Regions from separate parts of the Homo sapiens genome. Here region 2 is linked to region 1. Evidence: fine-mapped expression QTL. Tissue or cell type: whole blood. Region 1 holds a variant in brackets; the other region holds the start of a gene. All regions are shown on one strand. Distances are from middle to middle. Region 1 overlaps LINC00676 (long intergenic non-protein coding RNA 676). Region 2 holds the start of IRS2 (insulin receptor substrate 2).

The links. PIP is the estimated chance that this variant, and not a neighbour inherited with it, causes the effect.
Region 2: IRS2 starts here. The variant in region 1 is fine-mapped to the expression of IRS2 in whole blood (TOPMed, PIP above 0.99).

What each region holds. Positions count from the first base shown.
Region 1 is chr13:109,728,754-109,734,116 of GRCh38, forward strand. LINC00676 (long intergenic non-protein coding RNA 676) reads left to right here. Exons shown (of 3, transcript NR_103846.1): 2 at 280-439; 3 at 1,205-1,281. Among named protein-coding and RNA genes, the nearest start is that of LINC00676, 3.2 kb to the left of the region's middle. RefSeq lists an enhancer at 4,569-5,070. The variant G/A (reference allele first, on the strand shown) is at 3,245.
Region 2 is chr13:109,784,425-109,789,787 of GRCh38, forward strand. It overlaps IRS2 (insulin receptor substrate 2), which reads right to left and starts at 2,159. Exons shown (of 2, transcript NM_003749.3): 1 at 1-2,159. The coding sequence starts at 1,629. It overlaps LOC124903211 (WAS/WASL-interacting protein family member 1-like), which reads left to right and starts at 2,660. Exons shown (of 2, transcript XM_047430835.1): 1 at 2,660-3,021; 2 at 3,176-5,363. The coding sequence starts at 2,669. The coding sequence ends at 3,413. RefSeq lists an enhancer at 666-1,295 and silencers at 2,137-2,366, 2,387-2,556.

The DNA.
Region 1 (5,363 bases):
TCCCTACTTGAAAGATGCTTGAGTGTCTAATGGCCAGGAGCGGGTGTTGGTGGGATACCAAGCGGTGGGAGGAACACAGTATCGTCCTCAAGCCTCTGACTTCTCCTAGACAGGGTAGCTAAGAGGACTTTTCAGATATGTTGCTTTTGAGGTGTCTGTGAGGAGAGGGAGGCAGGAAACGCAGGCACACGCACTCACAGTGGACGCGTCTTTAGAAAGCTGCACATTCTCTAATTGAGTTAATTGTTCACGCACTGAATGGAGCTGTTTCTGCTCAAGCTAGGGAAAGACTTGTCAGCTGTTTCTTCACTTCCATGACCTTGGAAAATCCGCTGTCTCCACCAGACACTGATCCTTGGCACAGCCACTATTTGATACACTTAACTCTGCTCAGGATTTTAGATCTCAACCCAGGAAATGAGCTACAGTCTCACCCCAGGCAAGTACAGAACATTTTCCTAACCAGGAGAGACGCCTGTGTCACACATTCCAAAGGTAGCCAGCAGCTAAGAAAGCCGCAACAAAGGAAATCAAACAGCTCTCTCTCCCCTAAACGCTGCTTTCAGGCAAGTTCCAAACAAAAATGGAGGATGCACTGCAAATTAAAAACAAAAGCCTGCCAGTCAAAGGCAGTGTTTTTAAACACAGAAAGAGCAATACCACTGCAGGGGGCAGATAAAAGAGCTTTTGAGCATCTCAGAAGCTACTCACACACAAAAGCACCTCTGTGCCTTCAAACAGGATCTCCTAGAAGTTTCCCAAGGTTTCATAACCCAAATACCGCTGGTAGTGATGTGGTTTGGAAATTAACCTTGCTTTTCTCCCCACTGCTGTTTTACATATTAATTAAAGTGTTTTCCTCAGATCAGGAACGCCTGCAGGCTGGCTAGGTTCTGCAGAAGGTGCCTCATTTTCCTGCCGCTTCCCGCCCCGGCCCCACTTGTGCATAGTTCAATGATTAAAACTTCCCCAGGTCAGCTGTAGACGCCTCCCCTCCCTTAACTGCCATCGTGATATAGAACACACACTTTAATGTGGCTTTTAAAAAGTAATCGCTTCCCCACCCCCCAAGAAAGATAGGTCGTGCAGAGCTAATTTCGGGAAGCCATTTAGAAGAAATTGTTGAGAAGGCATTGAAGTATTTGGGTCCAACTCTGCTTACCTCATTCATGGACCTGTTTCTTTTCTTTTTTTTCTTTTCCAGTGCTTGAAATAGGTGTGCAAACAATTCACATATTATAAATACGTTGACTTGGGCCGGGTGTGGTGGCTCACGCCTGTAATCCCAGCACTTTAGGAGGCTGAGGCAGGAGGATTACTTGAGGTCAGGAGTTCCAGACAAGCCTGGCCAACATTGCAAAACCCTCTCTCTACTAAAGTACAAAAATTAGCCGGGCAAGGTGGTCCGTGCCTGTAATCTCAGCTACTCAGGAGGCTGAGGCAGGAGAATCGCTTAAACCCAGGAGATGGAAGTTGCAATGAGGCGAGATCACAACAACCCACTCCAGCCTGGGCGACAGAGCAAGACCCTGTCTCAAATAAATAACTAAAATGAAAATAAATAAATTGATTTGTTTTCATTCATATATTTTGGGGATACAATGGAGCTTAAAGTTTGAAAACCAAAACGGAGCTGGCCACCAAAGGTGTGGATTTGGTCAACAGGGTGTGGACTCCAGCAGCCCGTGTCACTCTCAGACTCCATGTCTCAATTTGAATGTTTCCATGTCACTTAAAAAGTAGAATATTCATAGTGATGTTGAAGATACAAAAGATATACCAGGATTAATTTTCTAGTCAATTTTATGTGTCTGTGACCCAAGACAATAAAAGTTAAGTCATCGTTAGTTCCTTAGTTGCTGGACACTTTAGCCCAATATACCACCTTCAATTTTGAATTATTATTTGGACTGTGTTCATGAGATTCTTGGAGTATGTTAAATCAACACATTTCTTTGTAATTATTGAGAACCTTTTGTTCCCTATAAAATCAAGTGTACGATGATGTAAACTATAAAACGCAAATTGTAGGGACAATTGGTAATCTGCAGTGAAAATAAAGTCAAAATAGCAAAGAGCAGATTATTCTCAAATTTATGTAACAGAGTTCTTACATGTGGAAGTGGATACAAGTATTAGCACATTCAGTTGATGTACTGAAAATAAAATGAAACTATTTTTCTACTTACTACTTGCTTGTGAAATCCAAAGGGGTGAATAAGAGCCAGGATTCATTGTCATGAGTGTAGGGGTGCCCTGGGAAGGAGGCCTCCATCCCACGTGTCAGTGGCGTCATCAGAAATTCCATGATCGTCGGCTTATTCTTTGCACACGTGTCTACAGGGTCCCTCCGCACACCGACTTGGTGTCCTCCAGGATGCAGAAAACCCAAATTAAACTAGTTTAATGAATAAGGAAACTAAGTGGCTCTTAGGACCATAAGCCCTGCGGTGACGCCTGCTTCAGGGCTGGAGGAGCTAAGTGTTCTCTGGTTCACCAAAGCCCCCAGTTCTTTCCGTCTGTCACTCATAGCTTCGGCTTCGTCCCCGGCTCACTGCCAGTGGTAATCAGGCTGCCCAAGAACTTCTGAAATCCACAGCCCGGTGTTTCCAAACGAATTATCAGTAGGGTTGGAATCCCTTCTCCCCAGCCCCAGCCCCAGCAAGGCCCTCCAACGCCACTGCAGTTCCCTGGATAGCAGGAAGAGGCCTGAGCCGGCTCTCCCGGAGCTCCAGGTGCAGAGTCTCCCCACATGGGAGTCAGTGTTCTCAGAGCAGCATTTGTTGACCTGAGCTAACCAAGTTCTCTAACTGAAAGCCTGGCTGTGTAAAGCCACAGATGTCTGGCATTAGAATAGCTCAAGGACAGGAGAAAAAACTGACAATCAGTCCAGAACGGCATCCCAGGACTTCTGCTCTGAGGAGAAAACAGGACTAAACCCCAGCTGAGGTCTATTTCCAACTCCAAGATTCTGCAATGTTATCTCTGTTTAAAAAGATATCCCACTTTTTGATGACAGTGTGTCTGGAATTGGTGGGTTCTTGGTCTCACTGACTTCAAGAATGCAGCTGCGGACCCTGGCGGTGAGTGTTACAGCTCTTAAAGGCGGCATGTCCGGAGTTTGTTCCTTCTAGGTGGGTTCCTGGTCTCTCTGGCTCAGGAGTGAAGCTGCAGACCTTAGCGGTAAGCTGTTACAGCTCTTAAGTCAGCGCGTCTGGAGTCGTTCGCTCCTCCCGGTGGGTTC[G/A]TGGTCTCGCTAGCCTCAGGAGTGCAGCTGCAGACCTTCGTGGTGACTGCTACAGCTCATAAAAGCAGTGTGGACCCAAAGACTGAGCAGTAGCAAGATTTATTGCAAAAGACGAATGAACAAAGCTTCCACACGACAGACACAAACCCTAACAGATTGCCACCGCTAGCTCGGAGAGCCTGCTTTTCTTCCCTTATCTGGCTCCACCCACATCCTGCTGATTGGCCCATTTTACAGAGAGCTGATTGGTCTGTTTTACAGAGAGCTGATTGGTCTGTTTTGACAGGGTGCTGATTGGTGCGTTTACAATCCTGAGCTAGACACAAAGGTTCTCCAAGTCCCCACCAGATTAGCTAGACACAGGGTGCTGATTGGTGCATTTACAAACCTTGAGCTAGATACAGAGTGCTGATTGGTGTATTCACAATCCCTTAGCTAGACATAAATGTTCTCCAAGTCCCCACCAGATCAGCTAGACACAGAGTGCTGATTGGTGCATTTACAAACCTTGAGCTAGATACAGAGTGCTGATTGGTGTATTTACAATCCCTTAGCTAGACATAAAGATTCTCCAAGTCCCCACCAGACTCAAGAGCCCAGCTGGCTTCACTCAGTGGATCCCGCCCGGGGGCTGCAGGTGGAGCTGTCTGCCAGTCCCACGCTGTGCGCCCGCACTCCTCAGCCCTTGGGCGGTTGTTGGGACTGGGCGCCGTGGAGCAGGGGGCGGCGCTCATAGGGGAGGCTCGGGCCGCCAGGAGCCCACGGCGGGGGTGCGGGGGCAGGCTCAGGCATGGCGGGCTGCAGGTCCCGAGCCCTGCCCTGCGGGGAGGCAGCTAAGGCCCGGCGAGAAATCGAGCGCAGCGCCGGTGGGCCGGCACTGCTGGGGGACCTGGCGCACCCTCCGCAGCTGCTGGCTCGGGTGCTAAGCCCCTCACTGCCCGGCCGCTCCGAGTGCGGGGCCCGCCAAGCCCACGCCCACCCGGAACTCTAGCTGGCCCGCAAGCGCCGCTCCCAGCCCTGGTTCCCGCCCGTGCCTCTCCCTCCACACCTCCCCGCAGGCTGAGGGAGCCGGCTCCTGCCTCAGCCATCCCAGGAGGGGGCTCCCACAGTGCAGCGGCGGGCTGAAGCGCTCCTCAAGCGCGGCCAGAATGGGCGCCGAGGCCGAGGAGGCACCGAGAGCGAGCAAGGCCTGTGAGGGCTGCCAGCATGCTGTCACCTCTCGACAGAGTCACAAAGCATTTACTGAATGCCTACTGTATGCCAGGCCCTTTTCTCAAGTCTGCTTAACCAGGAGTGAAGAAGGCTGACATTACCGTCCATGTCACATTCTGGTAGGAGAGGGATACAGAGAACACTACAAGTAGGTGAAATAGGTAGTACTTTAAAGAATGAGAACAACATGGAAAAGGAGGCTATGAAATACTGAGAATATGGCTGGAGTTTTCATTTTAGATAAGTAAATAGCCAAAGAAGCCTTGACTGAGGAAGCAGCCAGCCCTGTAAGAAAGGAGACCCCTGCCATGGTCCTGAGACAAGGGTTTGAGTGGTTTCCGCAGGAGGCATTTCCAGGAGGGGAAGGAGGGAAACAACGAGGGAAAAGTACAAGGTGTGCTCACCCCTGAATGAGTCCCCGGGGCAACCCGGATCCACCTGTCCAGGCTCCTCTGAGCACGTGGGGAGCACGTGGAGAGGGAGTGGGGGAGTCGTGGGGGAGCGTGGGCAGCGCTTGGGGGAGCCGTTGGGGACTTGGGGAGAGCGTGGAGAGCCGTGGGGAGGGCGTGGCGGAGCTGTCGGGGAGCCGTGGGGGCGCGCGTGGTCAGCACTTGGGGAGCGCATTGAGAGCCGTGGGGAGCACTGAGGGAGGATGCGGTGGCCACGGCTGCGTGGCACCCCCAGGCCATGGCCAGGAGACCCTCGGGCGGCGCAGGTGCCGGAAGCAGCGCCATCCGTGCTATGGACGGGTCCCCCCAATTGGCAGCGGTCTCGGGGGTGAGCCAGAGGATGGGGTGACTGAGAGGTGGCCGATGTGGGGATGGTGGTTTTCAAATAGAGGCGAGATCGGAGCAGGAGCTGGGAACCAAACCAGAAGGTTTTCAGGACGTGGTTAGACTTTGAAGCG
Region 2 (5,363 bases), 56 kb after region 1:
CATGTACCCGTAGAACTCACCGCCGCCGCCGCCGTCTCGGGCCGGGGGCGTCTCCGCGATGGACTCGGGCGTGTTGCTTCGGTGGCTGCAGAAGGCGCGCAGGTCGCCTGGGCTGGAGCCGTACTCGTCCAGGGACATGAAGCCGGGGTCGCTGGGGGAGCCCGAGGCGGAGGCGCTGCCGCTGGAGGGCCGCTGGCCGGGGCCGTGGTGCAGCGGATGCGGCAGAGGCGGGTGCGGGCCGGGCGGCGGCGGGTAGGAGCCCGAGCCGTGGCCGCTGCTGGACGACAGGGAGCCGGGGCTGGTGGCGGCGGGCGGCGAGTGCGCCACGGGCATGGACATGGAGCGGCTGTGTTGCAGCGCGCCCCCTGCCGGCAGCAGCGCCACCTTGCTCCCGCGGCCGCCGCAGCCGCCGCTCAGGGTGTGCGAGCGGCTCAGGGGCGCGCGCACCGGCCCGGGGCTCAGGGGGCTCCCAGCCACCGACACCGGCCTGGCGCCCGCGGCCGCCGCTCCCGCCGCCGCGCCGCCGTCGCCCTCGCTGGCGGTGCGCACCCGGCACGAGCTGCACTTGGCCGCCGGCGGGGTGGCGGCCAGGCTGTCGGTGCGCGAGCGGCGCACCAGGCCCGTCTGGCTGGGGGGCAGGTTGACCAGGTGGTGGTGGCGGCGCGCGCCGGGGACGCTGATGGGGTGCGTGGCCGACGACCCCGACGATTGGCTCTTACTGCGCGGCCGGAACTCGAAGAGCTCCTTGAGCGCCTTCATGGCCTCCAGGATGGTCTCGTGGATGTTCTGCGCCACCACCGAGTCGTCCGCCTGCATCCACAGCTCGCCGGGGCCTGTGACGGCCGAGCGGCCCACCTCGATGAAGAAGAAGCTGTCCGAGTGGCCGCAGCGGCGGATGTTCATGAGCTGCAGCGTCACCGACGGCTGCTCGCAGTTGAGCTTCACGAAGCCGATGGTGCGCGCAGACAGGCACAGACGGTACACCCCCGTCAGGTTCTTGCTCTGGCCCAGACCCTTGGGCTTCAGGTTCACCTGCCACACCTCACGGTAGGCGGCCGTGGCGGGAGCCACCAGCCCGTAGCTGTCCTCGGCCCCGGCGGCGCCGGCAGAGCCGCCCAGGGCGCCGGGCAGGGAGGCGCTGCAGGACGCGGCGGGCGCGGCGGCGGGGGGCGCGTCTCCGGCGGCCGCGCGGCCCTCGCTGACCAGGTCGGTGAGCGCGCGGTACCAGCCCTCCTGCTCCTGCTCGTTCTCGGCGGCCACGGCGAAGTACTCGTCCTTGGTGTAGAGGGCGATCAGGTACTTGTGCTTGGCGTCGGCGCGCTTGTTGATGTTCAGGCAGCAGTCGAGAGCGATCACCCGTTTCGGCGCGCCTGCCTTGCTCCGCCACTTTTTCTCGCTCTCGTAGTACTCGAGCCGCGGCGGTTGCGGCGCCGACCCCCCGCCCGCCGTCGCCTCGTCGCCGCCCGCGCCGGGTCCGCGCAGCACGAAGAAGCGCTTGTGGCCATGCTTCTGCTTGCGCAGGTAGCCGCACTTGCGCACGCTGTGGTTGTTGTTGTTGTTGTTGTTGTTGAGGTTGGGGCCGTCTCCGCTCGCCGGCCCGGGCGGCCCGTGCCGCGGCGGGCTCGCCATCGCGGGCGCTTCAGGCCGCGCGGCCCGGGCCCGGCGCCCAGGGGTTGGGGCGAGGGGCGGAGGGGGCGCGGGCGGGGGCGGCTCCCTCCCACCCTTGCGCCCGGCCGCCCGCCCGATCACGCGTCCCTCGGGCCCAGGCGGTGGGGAAGGTCCGGGGAGGCCCGCGGGGGCCAGCACCGCTCGGCGGCGCCGCGCCCTCCGCGCTCTGGGGCTCCTGAGGATGCCCGGCGCGGGCGGTGGCCGCCCCCCTCCCCGGCTGCCTGCGGCCGCTGCCTCCTCGGGCTCTCGGGCGGCGCCGGGGGACGCGCTCGCTGGGCCGGGAGTCGGGGTCCCCGAGCCGCGGGGCCGAGCCTAAGGCGCGCGCGGCCGCACCGGGGCTGCTGCCGCCGCGTCGCGCTCCGGGAAGCCGGGGTGCGCCCGGGCGCTCGGGGTCCGCGCCGCCGCCGGGGCTGCTGCTGCTGCTGGTGTTGCTGCTGCTGCTGCCAACGGCGACCCGGGCTCGTCGCGGTCCCCGCCGCACAGTGAGTAACACATCGCGCACCGAGTGACTGAACTAAGAAGAGCAAAACAACATGTGACTCGGCGTTACGCAGGCACACACAGCGCGGCCGCCCCGCCCCGCTGCCTCGCATTGGCGCCGCGCCCCCCGACGGACGGCGCGCTCGGCCAATCGGCGCGGCGCTCGCGGGGGCGGGCCGCGCGCCCCCGCCCCGCCCCCCTTTCTCCCCGGGCCGCGTTTCCCGCCGTCCCCTCCCCCTCCCGCGAAGGCCCCGGCCCGGCCGGGCGGGGTGGGGCGGCCCCGGCCTCATTAATCAGCGGCTTGTTGTGGATGCCGGCGGAGGAGATGCCACCCAGGGCGGGAAAAGGGGCGCGGAAGAGGGGCGGGGCGGGCCACGGCGCGCAGGGCCCTTCCCTCCCGCCTCGGACTCAATTAATTGGGCTTGAGCTTCCGCCGGGGAGGGGGCGCCGGGCGGGGCCGCGGCTGGGCGGGGCGGGGGATCGGGATCGGCGGCGGGGGCTGCGGCCTTGCAGTGGAAGCATGGGCGGCGAGCCGGGCCGTGCTCTCGGGGCGCGGGGTCCCCATTTTGGGCGAGGGCGGCCGCTCCCGCGCTCGGGGTGGGCGCGCCCCATCCCCGTCCCCCGTTTCCCGTCCCCGTCTCCCGGCCGCATCTCCGTCCCCCCGCAGCCGCGAAACGCGGGGAGGTTCCAGGGCCCGCGGCCGCGGGTTCGCGAGCACCGCGCTCCAGATCGAGAGCGGCGCGCGCCCTTCCGTGGAGGACAGAGGGGCGCGGAGGGGGCGCCTGTGTCCCACCCGCTCGCGGGCGCTTTACGGGGCGTCCTCTGCGCCATTCACTTGTCAGCTTGTCGGGAAGTTGAAATCGCGTTTGGGAGGTAATAGGAGAAAGAGATCGGGGACGGCAGGCGGAGAAAGTGCGGTTTCCATAGCGCCGGGGAGAGGGCGGACCCGCGAGCCAGCGGTCCCTGAGCCGGGAGACCGCGCGGGCGTCTCTCCAGCCCCCGCAGGAGCGCCGCCTTCCTTCCGCAGGGGCGTCCTCTCCCCCCACCGCTGCAGGAGCACCCCCTTCCTTCCTCGGAAGCGTCCTCTCACCACACCGCTTCAAGAGCCCCCCCTTCCTTCCACAGGGGCGTCCTTTCCCCCTCCGAGGCAGGAGCGCCCCTTTTCCCCCCACAGGAGCGCCCTCCCCACCCCAGGAGCGCCCTGCGCCCAGCAGACGGGCAGGTGGGCGGGCGTCCACTACCTGTGTGCGCGGTGCGGGCGGTGACTGCCAAGTTGGAGATGCCCTTGGAGAACTGCTTCGAATTCATGTATCTACTGGGCTTTTGTGACTTTCAAAGCCTATAGCAAATAAGCACCCCTGCAATTACGTCTCCTCAATGACCAAGTCAGGGTGAGGTGAGGGCTTCCTGAGTTCAGATCCCAGCAAGCTCCCGATCCTGCGCAACGAAGAAAACTCAACAAAACAGGCTTTGGCTGTTTATTTTATTTTTTTTTTAATTGTGCCTTCATGAAATAATTTACAGCAATAATTTATCTTATAATATTGGTTATTGTTTTTAAGTCCCGGATGTTTACTTTTGGATGTCCTCTATAATTCATAGAAGTATCTTAAAAGTAATAAAATCTTAATCTAAGAGAAAATAAGTGTAATTTTTGAAAGAGTGATATATATTTTAATATGTTTTTGTAACATGTGACTTGAAGATTGTGTTGGCTAATTTTATGTGCCAAGAGAGCCCTGACTAGTACAAAGATTATAGCGTTTTTATTTTTAGCATGTATACAGTTAGGATTATTGATCAGTAGCCTGAATTTGGGAAGAATAATCATTGTGGCAAATATCACCCAGTGTGCCTCAAAAAGGTGTGTTTAAAGTTGATCTTCCATTTTTAAATCATACCTTAAAAAAAAATACCTCAAGAAATGCCATTTTAAGTCTGTGCACCTATGTGTGCATGTGTGCGTGTTTGTTTATATAATAGATTGTGTGATTGTGTGTGTATAGGTATGTGTGTATGATTGTGTGTGTTGGGGGCGCCACCTTTATGAACATTATGCTTCGGCGTTCTTTTTAGATCTTGTTACCTTTTCTTACGTTCACAAATGTTGCCTAGCAATATGTCTAGTCAGGAAAGATGAAGGGATTCTTATCTTGGTGCTTGAAGAAAATGTGGTGTAGTTTTATTGGCTTTGTGATCACTTACATCCCACTTTTATGAGGATGTAAATGGGCCACCTCTATGTTCCTGTATGTTGCCAGCCATCAGTAGACAATGCTAAAGGAACCACCACTTTTAAACATCATGTGATGGTTTCTTCTGAGAAAGTATATTTTGCAATCTTTTTCTTTTTCATGTTGACTTTTATTATGCAGTTGCATTTTCATATCCGTATTGAACATTTACTTGCTGTGCCTGTCACACGCTAGCAGGTGTCATCTTTTCCTGTTTGCTTGTTTCTTGGGGCCATCCTAGTGTTAAAGGCCAGTGTTTTTAAGGTGTCAGCAGCTCTGGATTGGCAGTTAGCACTTTCCCCATGTACTGCCTCAGTTACCAGACTGGGGACAAAAGAGAGAAGGTTAAAGAATTATCACCTATGTCCGTGGTATTCTGTCATAGAGAGTATAAATTTCCTACAGCAAACTGGAAATTAATTGCAATTCTGCAGTTAGAACCTCCAAATACAAATGTGGATGATACAATTTCAATTCTCATTGAGAGTCAGCCCATGAAACAAACCAACAGTAAGAAACTCTGTAATTAGAAGTATCCCAGTCCTCTTCCTCAACCGAGGAACTTGTTTTCTTTCCCCCTTTCTATTGCCAGATAAGCTATTTATTTATTTAAAGCTTGTTCTACACCTTGTGATTTTCCAACTGTTCTTCCATACTTTTTCAACAAAAGTCAGCTAATAACATCTGCCAACATGCTCTGCACGCAGGACTGGCTGGGGCTGGCATGGCCTCTTGCCAGCAAACAGCCTGGTTGAAATTTTTTCTCATGGTCCAAGATCTTTCCTTGGAAGCTTTCTTTCCTTTCACAGCTAATAAAATGGCCATATCTTTCAGCAGGGAGTTTTTTCTGTTTGTTTGTTTTTTCTATTTTTAACAGAATCATATACAATAATGATTATTTTATTAGAAGTCTTCTGAAATAATTACTTTTCAAGAAAGAATCAATTATATAAAAGTGTAGAGATTTAAAAATATGTTACA